Linked DNA regions of Homo sapiens. The protein of the gene in region 2 interacts with the protein of the main gene of each other region in a pairwise test. Each region holds a gene or a part of one and is shown on either strand. Other genes may lie near its edges.

Region 1 (7,271 bases), on a different chromosome or scaffold from region 2:
GGTTCTCTGACCAGTGAGAAATTACTCAGGCCCCCATGGGAGCCTTTCCTTTTCTGGTGGGTAACTAAATCTGCAGAGACTTTGAGAAGAATTGACTTCTAAGGACCAGAAGGGAAGTTTAGAGGTGCATAATTTGGTTCCCTGATTGCTAACCTAGGAGTCAGATAACTTCTTCCTGTCCAGAAGTCTGTGTGTTCACTGAACTGCCATGGGGCCTGGCGGCAGCAGCAATTCTTTAAGAGTGACCTAAAACACAATAACTGGGAGCAACACAATAGAATAGAGCAACCAAAAACCCACTTCCCCAGTGAAGGAAGTGGTCAAAATCCTGGGGCTTGAGTCACTGAAGAATTAGCCCTAGCTGAGGGGTGGGAGGGGAGCATGCTCAGAAATCAGGAGCTGAAGACGATGCAAACACTGGGGGAGGCCCTCAGGGCTCAAATTTCCATGATTCATTTGAGAGTGGGTGAGATTCTCCCAGAATGAAAGGCATCATGGAGACCTTCTCTACAAAAGGGCACGAGAGAGCTTTCTGAGAAGCAGGGTATGGATCTGGCTGGCATTTCCCTGGCAGCTTAAGAAAGGCCAGGATTTTTCTGGGGAGAAAAGAGCAGTAATGACCACTGCCAAATGTCCTATCTTCCCTTCCCCTCATTCCACTTTTGTTGCCCAAAACATCACAGTCCTACCCTGAGTTTCTACCTCCATTACTTATCTCACATCCTTCCTTATGTTCTATTCCCATTGCTACTGTCCAGTTCAGGTCCTAGCCTGACCATGGCATCAGCCTCACCCATGACCCTGTCTCTGAACAACTCCCCTCTAACATATCTTCTACCCTGCTACTGGGTTATCTGACCATGGCACTCCCCTGCTCAAGAACCTCCAAACCCCCACCTCTAACCACCACCAATCAGCAGGAAAGAGGCTCCACGCACCTCAAGCCAGCCCTTGCAATCCCAGGACTTGGATTTCCAAAAATAAAAGCTCTGCTTTTGTATTCTTCTTTCAGTGACAGTCTATCAAATTCTTTTCAACCAAGCTAAAATCCTACCTCTTCTAAAAAGCCTTCCCAGATCCATAGGTTAGGAGCAGTTTTCTTTTCTCTCTTCTTCTATTGCCCTCACATAGCTTTTTATTAAAACCACTGATGACAGCCCTAAGATTTTAAGTCCCTGAAGGGAGAGTCTTGCCTGTGACAGGTACCAAATAAATATCTGTTCAATGAACAAATAAATGAATTAAGGATGGCCATATTTTCTTCCCCATGGAAAAATAATCAATGTCAAAATGACTGAAGACTTCATAATAAACACAGAATTATAGAGGGAAAATATTTCCTTTTTTTTTTAACATACATAGACTTTAGTCCTTTATTATTTTTCAGAAATTGCTTAATACTTTACTACAACTATGTATTGAGCATCTTATTGTATGCAAACTTTGTTATATATTTCTATATAAATACCTATGTAAATATGTGACTGTTTCCTGAGTGCATTTGAATATACAAGGGTATATATGTGTGTGTTGCCTTTTGTTCAAGAGGAAATAAGTGAATGCAAAGAAAATGTCTTAAATTTCTAAACACTAGTTTGTCTGCAGATTTAATCTTTCTCTCTACTTCTTTGAATTATAGAATCTCAGGACTGAAGAGGGAGGTCTTTAAAATTCCTTTTCAATTCAAGAAAGTCATCTACAAATCTGACCAAAGAACTATCTGAATCATGCTTAACCTCCTCCAGTCATGGAGAGCTCACTACCTACCAGGATCCCTTCCCCGATTAGAAAGATTTTTCTGACAATACGTCCGAGTGTGCTCTTTGCAACGACCACCATGACTTTTAATTCTGCCGGTGAGATTACCTGACTAGACTAATTCTTCCTCTTTCTAGCATGGTTGTCTTCACAGCAGAACTACCAGGTTATCAGAAGATTCACCAGAGGCCTTCACCTTAGATCTCAAAATCTCAGTCAAGTCATAACACAGTCCTGAGATTACTGCTAGACACTCCCTGTCTTTTTGCTGGCCAGTGTTTTTCTGACAGTGAGATTCTGATCTCTTTCTGGATAACTGTAAACTTTGGAGAAAGCTTTCTCACAGCATCTGACCAAAGACGTGGTGCTTCCTCCAAAGCACGAGGAGAGAGAGAGGCGTAGCCGCTTCTGGTCAACTGACCCCCATGAGTCAGACGACCCCACACCACCTTCCTCAGCGTGACACCTGAAACTCCGCAGCTGCCTCTCCTTCCTAAGACACCACGCAGGGTGGCACGAAAGCCTTTCTGTCCTCTGCGCAAGTCGGGAGCATTTTGCTTTTGTTGGTTTGGTTTTGATGTGTTTGTTTCCCATGAAGGATCATTTGGTTGGCAAAATGGATGCGCATGTAACACAAAAGCAGAAAAGGAAGCACTCCCTTCTGGGGGCAGCCGGAGAGGATGTGTCTGGAGGAGGAAAAGACTGGGATTAAAGGCAGGCTGAGTGGATGAGACCTTGGATGAGCCTCTCTGGCCACTGTTATTGTTGTTTTATATCAAGTGTACTTTTCCATTCTCAATATTGTGTTTATGCAGGGGTGGGAAAGCAGGGGATTAATTTCTCCGTGGGAAACATGGGGAGAAAAAGGATTCTCAGGGGCCATTTCCTCCGGCCTCTGCATAGCTCATGTTTGGTGTGGAAGGAAGGAACCTCAGGTAGGACTTGATGTTGGAAAATACAGGGCAGTTTTTACAACCAGGAGAAACATCGTCAATCAAGCAGCAAAAGTAACAGGGACCTACATGCTGCAGGGAAAACAATTATTTTTTTCATCTTCCAAATGCAGGCTATTATAAATGGGGGTTATTATACAGCAAGTCGTGTTGGTCTGGTGCTGTGTAGACTAGCACAGAGTCTCACATAGTCAGGGGTGAGGAGCCAAGGTGTGGGTTGGGAGTGGGGCAAGCACACTGTATGAGAGAGAGAGAACCTATTGGAGAACCAGATTCTTATAATAAATCTGCCCCTGACCAACTTCTGACTTTAGAAAAATCACATAACCTCTCTGGTCAGTGGCTCCTACAGGCACAGAGTTCAAAGTAGCACAGAGCAGGGATTCTCAGCTCCAATCCTGGCTCCACCATGTCTGAACTGTGACCTGTAGACCTCACAGGATTAGCATGAGGGCTGAAGGCCTGTGCCAGGCACAGAGTGGGGGCCACACAGTTCCTGGTTGGTTGGTCTCTTCCTCTGTGTAAAATGAGAGGCTCGGGCCGGGGAAATGGGCTTTATGCTTCTCTGGCAGAGCCTGAGGGCCAACAATTATGCTAAAGGCAAACAAGTGGCATGAATATTGTTTTTGCAAATGCTCCCAAGAAGAATAACCTCTCTCTCTTATTTCCGCTTGTCCTCCTTCGTGTCCAGGGGAGGGGTGGATCTGGGCAACATCTGCAAAGACTGAGGCCAGACCTGGGCTGTGAAGTTGGGGCCCAGCCTACTCCCCCAGACTGCAGCTGGTCAAGGGATCAGGCGATGTTCCCTGGGCGAGGACGGAAGCGTGAGTTGCCTTCTGCTTTTGACAAACGAGTGTTCTGGCAGCCAGAATGTCTTCAAGGGAGAGGTTGCCAAGATAATAACTAGGGGTTTGGGAAGAAAACCTAGGTGTGGCCCGGCCCCAGCGGCGCTTGGGTGGGACCAACAGTAGATGGCGGCAACATGCTTCAACCAGCAAAGCTGCAGCCTCCTGGAAGGCGGCAAGCTGGGAGGGGAGGCCCCTCGCCTAGAGACACCCCAGACCCATCAGGTGGGCTCAGGGCTTCATTTCAATTCGTTCTTTAGAGGTTGAGAGGCATTGAGGTCATTCAGTCCAACCCCTTGATAAGAAGGAAATGCACGTCCCCAAAGGAGAAATGGAATTGAATCAGAACTGAAGCCATTTCGCACCTTCCAGGCAGGGCTCTTCCACCTGGCATGATTTTTTCTCTCCTGTCTCTTGGCTTAGGGTTTGGTGGAAGTTCTAGAACTTCTACCAGATCTACTGTTCTCTCTTTTCCTCCTACCCTCTCTGAGTTAATCAGAGAGTCAGCATATACCCCTTAAAACTGTGCCAATTATAAAAACACAGGGTCTTCCGAGGCCACTGCTTCTCCCTGTCGTTTTGCTGAGAAGTCCCACCCAGCAGAGCCAGCCTGCCTGGCCAAAACAGACCCGAACAATATCCCCCTGCAAACTCCGAGCAACCTTCTAACCCTCAGCACAGGAGTCCCCACCCCACCCAGACATGGAGACTATCTTTCAATAAAGGGAAGCTCCAGGTCTCAGCTTCAGAGCTTTCTCTGAGATCAATGTGAACACACTGCCTTGCCCCAAACTAGTTGTTTCAGGGTTGCAAACCTCTGTCCAACTCCCCTTCTCCAGCGTCCTGGGGAAGGGTCTTTGATTCTTTGAAATGAGAAGTCTAAGGATCAAGAACCCCGTTTTGCTCTCAGCTCTGATCTGACCTGGAAGAGGAGAAACATTGAAGAGGTTCCAGCCTGGTGGGCACATGTAGTGGAAACTAAAATGATACCAAAGAGGTGTCAACCATCCTGAAAAAACAAGAAGTAGCCAATGCGACAAAAGATTCTTCACAGGGGACAAAGAATCGAATTTTGACCGAAGGACTGCCTTGAAACATTGAGGGTGGGTGGTCCCCAAACAAGAGTGGAAGGATGGAAGGGGAAACATCCTCATCACTTCTCCCTTGCTCTTTTGCCCCCTTTCTGTCTTTCTCTATCCACTTAGCTTTTTCTCCTGCTTCTAGGTCTTTCTGCCTGCCTCCTCCCTCAACACACAGGCCTGGGAAACAGCATCCCACTTGCCCTCCCTCCCTCCCTCCTGTCCTAGTTGCACCTTCCTCTTCCTCCTCTCAAACTGTTCCTCATTTGCTCCTGTCCACACCTGTACACCACACCTTCATGCTGCAGGGTCTCCCTCCTCAAGAAGAGGGTGGAGTTTCTTTCCCAGAGCCAGCTCAGTTTCTCCCTGAGCCTGATTCTGTTCCTGGTGAATGCTTTGCTGTTGTCAATGTCTTCACAGACTCAGCCTGCCCTCCTCATCTGAGCTGGCACCCTTTACGTTTAATTACTCAAACCTCTTTCTTTTATTCCTAGTGCCGAGTGAATGCTCATGGCTGAGGGTAAGTCCGGGGAACACCATACCTAAAGAATCTGTGAGTGGATGGGGCAGAGGAGGCTCCGTGGGTCCTCAAGGCACCCAGGAGACGAGAATCCTCTGCAAAATGCCCTTTTCAATGCCACACGTTGCCCTATTTCACTTTTCTATCAATTTTTACAGATTAAGCCAGCTGCTAGCATCAGCGCAAGGGATATCTCAAAATAGAAATGGTAGGATCTTAATTTTTTTGTTTTTCGTTTTTTTGGTGTTTTTGTTTGTTGGTTTGTTTTGTTTTTGTTTTTTTTGAGACAGGGTGTTGTTTCATTGCTCAGGCTGGAGTGCAATGGTACAATCATAGCTGACTACAGCCTCAAAGCCCTGGGGCTCAATCAATCCTCCTGCCTCAGCTTCCCAAGTAGCTGGGACTACAGGCATGCACTACCACACCCTGCTTTTTAAAATTCTTCTTTTAGAGACAGGGTCTCACTATGTTGCCCAGACTGGTCTCAAACTCCTAGGTTCAAGTGATCCTCCCACCTCAGTCTCCCAAGTAGCTGGGATTACCACGCCTGGGTGAATCTTAGAATCTCAGAGCCATAAGGGGTCTGAAAGAACCACCAAGTTCAACTTCCGAAAGCAAGAAGACAAGTGTCTCGCCTGTGGTTACATGGCAGCGTCAAGATAACACCACTGCCCCTCTGTCTTCCTAGTCAGCTGTCTTACATCTGCTCCAGGATTCTTGCCACGCTTTCAACCTGTGCTGAAAGGGCTCTCTAGTTTAACTACCCGGTTTGAAGAAACAATTCATGAAACAGGCTCAGCAAATAGAAAAACTGTCACAGCCACGTAAGTCCAAGCGCACCAACAGCAGAGGATTCCATTGCAGTTCCAGGGAAATGCCATCTCCACAACACAAAAGAAAACCTTGACCCAAACATTTTGTTAAAAAGGAAGAGAGAAGCAGCAATCACCACAGGTGTTTGTGCTTTCATCTTTCTGCTTTAGTATCAGTGAATCTCCCAGGTAAATTGAAGGAAATGGTTTTACCCAGGCAGGACACCAGGGACTGAATTGTTGCAAAGAGCAGTCTCAGGACGTGTGTATGTCGGGGCTGGGTGCTGAAGATTCAAGTAAACCCCTAACTGGAACCATATTTGGGCTTCCTTGATTACTGAATAGCAAGTGCAGTCCAGAAATTCAAGATCACCTGGGCGGATCTGGGAAGAGTATTAGAAAAGGGAAGCTTATGGTGAGAAAATTCCCGTTCTACGCTGGTTAAGGGTTAGGAGCTCTTCTCAAGGGGCTGATACCCAGATTGCTGGCCAGCAATTACAAGGAGGCTACATTTGATGGGCAGCCTGTTCCCGTAATTACTATGATGGGTGGTGACAATGTATAGGTGTGGGCTACATGAACTATGGACCAAATTATGGGACAATCCCCAAAAGGCCTAGCTAGAAGCCTGTGTCCTGGTATTGGATTGATCTAACCATGACCTAGTAGGTAGCAACACTGGGTGTGTCCCTCCGAGTATGTACATCTGAGAGTCCCAAATAGGCCTGAGCTTTTGTGTTAGGCAGCTATGTACATACATGTGGGAGGTTAAAGAAGGAACCATATTCATGCATTTAGAAAATTAAATACCTCCAAATCAAAAACCCCGTGAGTATGATTGACTATGTACATAATTCCAAACTTCAAAAATGCTCCCTGCCCTTCTGAGCCTTAGGCAAAAAAAAAAAAAAAAAGAAGAAGAAGAAGAAGAAGAAAAGATAATGCAATGTAGATCCATCAAGTTGTATTCATTAAATATTAAATAGGCGTTAAGTGTTTAGAGGATGAGAATCATTGGGTGGAGCAACAACAAAACCAGAATAGATATTTTCTGAGTTGTTTCAGGCCAGCAGAATCAGGAAGTTATAAGGAAGTTGATTTTGCTTGATTTAAGGAACTTTAATAAAATTAGAGTTGGCCTGCTAAGGGGAATGAGTGTGGAGGTACACACTGAGGTTCTGAGCTCCCCGCATCTGGAAATTTTAAGATCTGTAGGATGGCCATCTGTTCAAGATGGTGTAAAAATTAGATTTCTGCATACAGTAGGAGAATGAATGAGATCCAAGATCCCTCCCAAATTTAGA
Region 2 (8,165 bases):
AAAAAGGTTAGGGAACCTTCACCAGAATATACCACTATTACATAAAGTACTTCTAGTACGTATTCCACAGTCTGCAGTGTCCTTACCAGTGGTCAGTAGTACCATCTACATTTTCTGACCAAGGAAACTGAGGCCCAGCAAGATTATTTGACTTGCCCAGAGCCTTGCGGTTCTTAAGGGGCAGAGTCAGAGGTCTGACACCAAAGCTCCTACTCTTCCCACCAAGGCAGGTCATCTACAGCACCTTCTACTCTTAAGGGGTCTGCCATTTCCACCCTCTCTGAACAGACATAAAACAAACAAGTGTATTATGTCTGTGTGTGTCTTTATGTGAGTGTGTAGACTCTGAGGAACAGGTAAGTCTTGGAATCCCTTGAGTGTTTAGTGTGAACCTAGTATGTTTAGCCAGCCAGTATCAGGTCAGTACCCTTTAGCCAGCCAGCCTCATTTTCCATTTGGTCCAGCAAAATGGAATGCCAAGAATAGTGATGGGGCTAACAGGATGCATGAATCCATACTTGTTGAATAACTTATTAGGTAGAAGTAGCAGGTCAAACAAACCTTTCCCCCTCAGATACGCTCAGCAACAATTCAGTGTTGCGGCTCTCCTGCTCCTCAGAGAGCTCTTATTACCCCAGCAGTGGGGACACTCAGAAACCCTAAGACCACAAGTCTTTGTGTTGAAAGAGGCTACAAGTGCGGAAAAGAGGAAAAATAAGGAAAGGAGTACCTCATTAACAGTATGGAGATTTGAAAGTACAGGCTTTTGAAAGTGACTCTCTGAAGCTCCTGGGCCACTCAGCTTCTCCTCTAACTTCCTGTCTGCCCCCAACAGTGGGGGAGGTCAACAGAGGGGCTGGCCAGTCAATAGAACTAGCAACTGCTGAAATCCACATGAAGCTATGGTGGAGAATGTGACCCTTCCAAAAGGAAACCACAGCTGGTTGTGGAATGCAAGATGCGGAAGCACTGATGCCTGCCTTCTATGCTGTTGCTATTGTGATTTCTGCAGCATTATGAGGAAGGTTTCTGATGGAATGAATTTTGCATCTTTTAAGAAAGTGTCTCTGTACCTGGATATGTGCTTGATAAGGTTAATAGAGCAATTCTTGGTGTGTCTTTTTAACCCACAGGAAGGTTAACAGAGGCTTTCATCGTTGGTCCTGTAAGCCTACCCTGAAAGGAACTTTCTGGAAAGAGTCCCCTCCCCCTTAAAAAATGCCTTATAGAATCTTGGGGTTTTGAGGTTGATGTGTTTCCACACCCAAATAACCCCAAAATAGTTCATCCTATTGAAATTCTTGGTGTCCTGGAAAGCATTCTATGGAAAACCTGCCTGGTCAGCCAAGCCCACACGTGAGTCTATGCAGACATCTCCTCTAACCTCGCAAGCCCCAGGAACCTCCTCTAACCTCTCAAGTCCCAGGATCTGAGGACCAATTTTTAGCACAATCTCACACAACAAACCTATTGGGCACCTAATAATAGAAACAAGCTAATGAATGTTTTGACTGTGACAAAAAAAAATGGTTTAATAACTTTTTATAAATGCATTGTTTCTTCTCATTGTCTCAGGGTTATGCCAAAATTAATTTCAAAACTATCTGCTTAAATGTGTCCTTGGACAATAATCACCAGTAAGTCCTGACTTCACCCCCTTTCTGGTAGCGGTCTGACGTTCCTTTGCAGAGTTTCGCTTCCATCGATAAGTTACTTTAAATAAAAAGTTAAAATAAAAACTAGAAGCCACAATTGTGCCTATGTCAGTCATCGAAGTCTTGTACAGGAGTCCGTCTTCGCAGCGCATCGTTCTCAGAAGTTTCCCGCGGGAGGAAAGCTCCACTTTATGAATTACTCGAACAGCTTCCCTGGGAATGCCCAGCCCCGAAGCTTCCCTGCTGAATTCAAAGTCAGAGCTCCCAGGGCTCGGTCCCAGGAACCGGGAGCCGTGCAAAAAGCGCGTACACTGCCATCCACTGGCCCCGAGCAGGTAGTAGCAGGAGTGAGGCGCCTGCCACGGGAGCTCAGGAACTGGGTCCCAGTAAGATCCGACAAGACACCACCTCCCTTCCGCCCGCACAGCCTGCCCTCTCTGCCTGCAGCTAGCGTCACCGGTCGGTCCCCGATTCGGAGCAGCTGGGACCCTCGCGGTAGCAAGCGGATTCCGGGGCCCTAATGACACCGAAGGAGAGGGGCAGCCGCAAATTAGACCTTCTTCCTGGGGGCTCAGGCCAGTAGGGACTGTCCGTGGTGCCCTTCCCTTTCTTTCTCCTCCTGAACGAGAGCCAACGCTGCCCCTTCCCAGGACTGGATCTGAGCCAACCAAATCCTACAGCGCAGAGCCTGCGCCCCCGGCGGCCAGCCCTCCTGTGCCTAGGCAGGTTCACGCCGGAGAAAGTTTGCACGCAGGGACCTACAAGTTCCCAGCACTCTGCAAGAGGGCCAGTTCTGGGATGCCAGCACTTAGGACGGGCGAGTGATCCCCAGGCACCAACTGGGGGCCGGGGAACCAAGCGCGAGCCCGGGCTGTGGAGGGACCGACACCCAGGCGCTCGCAGCTGGGGAAGGGGGCTTACGTCTGGGGCAGGCAAGACTGCTGCACAGTCCCTCCAGCCACCCGGCGCCCGAGACGCCGGCGCAGACAGGAAGCTGTAGATCCCCGAGGGGCTGGCTCCGACAGCTCCACCTGCAGCCTCCCCTGCCGCCAGTGTGCAGCCAAGTCCACTAGATGCTTGGAGGGCACCGTGCGGAGGAGGGACTCTGCAGGAAAGGTGGCATCACCCCCGGCATGGAGACCGGGGTCTCCGGATCGAGCCGACTCGAACACTGAAGGAAACCCTGCCCATGACCCTGGGAGGGTCTCGGACGCCGGGCGACCGGGGTGGTGGTCGGGACCAGGGCCGTGCGCCTGGGAACTGGGTGCAGGGCGCTGAGCGCGGAACTGTCAGAGCGGGAGCTCACCGGCGGCTGGGGAAGGAGGTGGCATCGGGCGGAGGAGAGGACGGGGGCGGGAGGGGCTGACCCTGAATTCACCGGGACTAAGAGGCCATCACACCTGGCTGCGGTAGGACAGCGAATCATCGATCTTACCGGCTTTGGGGACCCGGCTCTGCGGCAGCGCTCTTCCGGAGCGAGGGCAGGAGACTGTTTCATGGATAAAAAGTCTCGCTTATTCTTCTGTCCACTTTTATCTTGGTCGCTTTTCTCTCCTCTACGTGTCCCCCGGGGAGGCACTACGGATGATTTTCTCCAAGCTCAAGAGAGACAAACTGAACTTTAAGCGCCAGGGGCCCCATATTTTGTCTGCTCTACAGATCCCACCCGCGGGCCACACCCTCCCTTCACTCCCGTCTCTGGGTCCCACCCATAATAACCCGTAATGACAGATCCTCCGTGTCCCCACCTCTTTGCATTCAAAGAAGTTATTCTTCAGGGGCATATGGAAAGTCAGTTTCTGCTGGTCTCCCTCAAAAACTTACACTCCACGAGGGCAGCAGAAAAGGACAGGACGATTAAGTTTAAGTTGTGGAAGACTGGTTGGGAGCAAAAGAGTTACTTTTCTCCAAATTTGCCATATCACATCGAAAGCATTTTCTTTTAACCAGAGTGTAGCCAATCAAAATTAACTGCAGGCGCTGGCAATTAAAGAACAAGTTTATCTCAAAAAAGGTTTAACGTTTGGAGGCCATTATTTGCATCAGGCATATGGAAACTTGCGTTCTGTTAGGTATGCTGAAGAAACTGCTTTTGCCAGACTGCCTGAGTCTTTGCTGAGGCTGCAGGGACAAGGGAGAACCCCACCCTGACTGCTTCCAAAACCCTAGTTCCTGATTTCCTGCAGAGGGCACCTACAGGCTGAACCTAAAAGGCGAACAAATTCCTGCCTGTCATTCAAAAGCAGCTACCTTTTCTAAGGCAGCGTCAAGGAGGGCACTGGAGGTACTCAACACAGTAATGATTACTTTACCAAGTCCAAGGCAATTGTCAAATGTGGCAAAGAAAAACACTTCATTGGGTTTTTCTTAGAAATGATTTTTCATCCAATTTCAATCAAGATCTTAATGGAAATTTTGAAAATTACTCATGAGGTTATTTAATAAATCCATCCCCATTATTTAAAGAAAGCCATGTAAAGACAACAAAATATGGGCCAAGCACTTGTTCTTGAACATTATTGCTGAGAAAAAAATATGCATTTGTAAAATGGGGGGGGCAGTATTTTGTTTCTGAAGTGAGATCAAATGTAGAAAATATTGCATATGTATAGTAAAATGACTGAAACACTGATTCCATGTTATTCTAACATCCGATTTGTAAACCAGTATCTGACAAATTTATCATAATTCACAATAATTCAGTTCATATTATGTGGCAGGTGTCATACTAAGCACTTTACATGTATTCTTTCAGTTCCACCAACTACTCTGAGGAAGAAGCTATTATTTTTATTTTAGAGATAAGAAAGCAGATTCAGGGAGCTGAAGTGAAGTAACCAGCCTACGCAAGCTAGCAAGAAGCTGAGCTGGGATTCCCCCGAGGCAGTGACTTCTGGATTGTGTTCTTACTAAGATACTACCTCATCACACACCATCACCGCAGTGCCAGTCTGGGAATCAAGAACTGTGAGCAAATCACATAGTCTTTCTGGGCCACAGTTAACTCAGCCTATAACATAAGGGCTGGATTCAATTGCTAAGGTTTCTACAGGCATTCTGAGGCCAAGTACAAGTTTCTATTTCATCTTCTTTCTCTTCCACTTTCTGCCCTCTGGTGGAGGTGCTACAGGGACTATGAAATTAAAGTAGCTACGTCAGTGGATTTGAGATAGGGTCGATCAGTCTCCCTCACTTTTCCACTTTTAGTTCCTCTGAGAACTAAAGCTAATTGCATTAATGGTGTAAAATAAACATTTTTTAAACTTCCTTTTAGCAAGAAAACCCAACCAGTTCTAGTTACCAACAGCACCAGAATTAATACCTGAGGTATTCTTTGCATGAAGGTAATGACATAAAAAATGAGGGTAAAGATGTTTTATATTCTTTATAATAAACTTTTAAAATGTCAAGAATCATAAACTATTAGAAGTCTCAAAACATATTCAAACTGATTTGAATATGCAGTGTGCTCATTAAAATGTCAAGAATCATAAACTATTAGAAGTCTCAAAACATATTCAAACTGATTTGAATATGCAGTGTGCTCATAGTAATCTTTAATGACCTATTTGAATTATTCTTTAAAAAAAACTAGCTACATTTGCATTTCAGCTTCAAGTGACAACCATCATCTAGTTTCTTAAAATAATTTTACAAAAAGAAACATTTCTAGCCTATTGAAACTTTTATTGTCTAGCACTTCAAGCATACATCCAACTAGTTAGATAATTTAAAAGAAAACACACACAAACCTTGAAGAGATTTATGGAAAAATTAAAGATATTGAATATACCTCAGGAAACGGTGATTTTACAGAGCAAACTTCAGCCACATATCACATTACAGATCAAATTAGTACTTAGTACTACAACTGAAGACAATTTAAGAACAAGAAGAGATCACGGAGAAGCAAGCAGCATCCCAGGATGATAACAGGCAAGCAGTAGCTAAAACAGATATGCTACCCCATGGCTCATCTATTTAGCTATTCATTCAACTAATACTTATTTTGGGTTTGCTGGCTGCCAGATGAACAACCTAGACAGAGTTCCTGCCCTCACCAAGACTTTCAGTCTTGTGGAATGTATTAAACAAATACACAAACATGTAAACTATGAAAAAATACTTGCAAATAATGTGAGAATAGCTTTGGGGAGTTAGAATGTAATATTTTCAGCTGAGATATAAAGATACAAAGCCTTCAAAATAAAAAAAATTAAAAACAGCAAGAAAAAGGTAAACTGGAAATTTACCTGTTGCAGAGAGGGGAGAGTTTATTTAGTCAAAAGGGGGAAAACAACATACCCATATGTACTATAATACACTCTAGCCCATTGATATATTCAGTATCTGATAAAACAATTTGTGTAGATCTTCTGTTTGATGTACATAATATTTCTGGGACATCAATCCCCTACTCTAATATACCACAGTAGTCATTGGGAAGGAGGTAATATATGACCCTGTAAGAAATTTCAAAGGAATTTTATTTTTAGTCCTCTCACACATCTAGTGCTATAGAGGGGTCCCATAACTGCAATTTCACTGCCTAAATATGCCCCTACCTTTGGCCAGCATCCCACCCAGTCCTCCCTCAATGACGTGGAGCTCCCTCAATGACATGGAGCTCCCTCAATAACAGTAACCATATGTGCAAAAACTGAGATGCCTCACCTCACCTCACCTCACATCTGATGCCTCAGATTTTTTTTCTGATTTGTGAATCAATTTGAGATGTCTTAAAGTTATGAGGTAAAGTCACATATCTATATTATTGTAGCTAAGCTATTCTATGTACTATGTGCCAGGCACTTCATAAAGTGACATATAATTTTCTAGGTTTTTCATTCTTGAAACAAATCTAGTTTCCTTTGTCATAAAATGAGAAGTGTAATAGGCTCACCTAATACGGTTGTTATGAGGATTACATATAGAAAGTGCTTTAAAATAGCTATAGACACATAATAATAGTTAAAACTTATTGGGCACTTACTGTTATTTCTTATTGTCACCATTTTACAGAAGAAACTGAGGCTTACAAAGTTAAATAGCTTGCCTAAGAGCTCACAAGTAGAAAGTGGTAGAAGCAGAATTGGAGCCTAAAAAATCTGGGACCACAAACTAATCCTTATGTTCTGTAGCAGTTATTAAGAGAAGACTGTGATGAAAACATCCAAGGGGTTTACAGCTTAGAATACACTCTGAATTTTCATTCACCCAATAAATATTTACTGAGCACTGTAGTAGGTTAGTGTCCCCCCACTACTCCCTGCCAAATTAATGTCCACCCAGAACCTCAGAATGTGGTTCTGTGGAAATAAAGGCTTTGCAGATATAATTTGTTATATCTTGGTTTGGGACTTCTGGCCACCTAAACTGTGAAAGAATAAATTTCTGTTGTTTTAAGTAACTCATGTATGGTATCTGTTACAGCAGCCCTAGGAAACGAATACTAGCATCTACTATGTGGCCAGGCTTCTCTACTCTGAGGTTACAGTAATAAACAAAACTGCACTCCTGCCCTCATGAAGCTTACATTCCAGGGAAGGAGGCAGATAATAAACAGACACTTAATATGAGGACAGGTACTATTTAGTGCTATGAGGAAAAAGTATTGTGAGAAGATAGAGGATGACCAGATGACAGTGACTGGGGGGGGGGGCTTTGGAAATATTAGGTGATGTATTAAGAGAATACATATATGGGATACAGAGGTGTTAACTCAAATGAATCTGGACTGTGGAGTTTCAAACTGCATACAATCCTTCACAGCACGACTTAAATTACTAATTGGAAACTTAGCAAGAAGAGAAGCTTAGTAAGCAATAGACCTGAGCTTGTTCAATAAGCCAAGATTCTAAAATATGTAAAAATGGCTTCCCAGGTGGACACCTGGTCTTGCTTGTCTCTTTAAGTTGCTGGAAATCACAGGGTCTCTCAGTTCCTCCCACCACTCCCAAATTCTCGCATCTTTTCTAGGAGGTAGTAGCTAGTACTTTGCTTCTTCCTCACCCTGGAAGCTCCCCAGCCTCATAAGCCTTGGGTCTTAGAGTGGTCTAATCACTGCCACTCGATAAAGACTGCAACTTCCACAGACCCAAGAAGAGACAGAGCTATCTCATGTCAACTCTAGCTCTACAGCTTAGACATCTGCTTCAGTTCCCAATATCCAAGGACAGACAGACATTAACAGCTAGAGTCACCTGGGTCCTCAGAGGTTCTTTTTACAGCCTTCCTTTTACTGTCCTATACCTGGTCACAGCAATTTTGGCTACTGCTGCATTTTTAGTGTTCTTGGTTTAACACCCAACTAATTCTTTGTTCTTCTGGAGATCAGCATACAGCATCTCCCATTGTTTTAATAATCTTGATTATAAAAGGATGGATGAGGCCCAAGCACCCTAAAAAGTCACCCTTGGCAGTGGGCTAGATCCCCCACATGGGTGGCCTGGCTTAATCTTCACCTGTTTGCTTATGTGGAAGAACCCACAACACAGACCATATGCATAG

The links.
Region 1: the proteins of CORIN (region 2) and EMP1 interact in binary tests that used the Homo sapiens proteins (3 or more experiments, as listed by UniProt).

Annotation. Positions count from the first base shown.
Region 1 is NC_000012.12:13,199,575-13,206,845, reverse strand, and holds part of EMP1 (epithelial membrane protein 1), read right to left. Parts: intron 1-7,271.
Region 2 is NC_000004.12:47,834,797-47,842,961, forward strand, and holds the start of CORIN (atrial natriuretic peptide-converting enzyme), read right to left. Parts: upstream 3,272-8,165; 5' UTR 3,154-3,271; coding exon 3,091-3,153; intron 1-3,090. UniProt on the Homo sapiens protein: Serine-type endopeptidase involved in atrial natriuretic peptide (NPPA) and brain natriuretic peptide (NPPB) processing.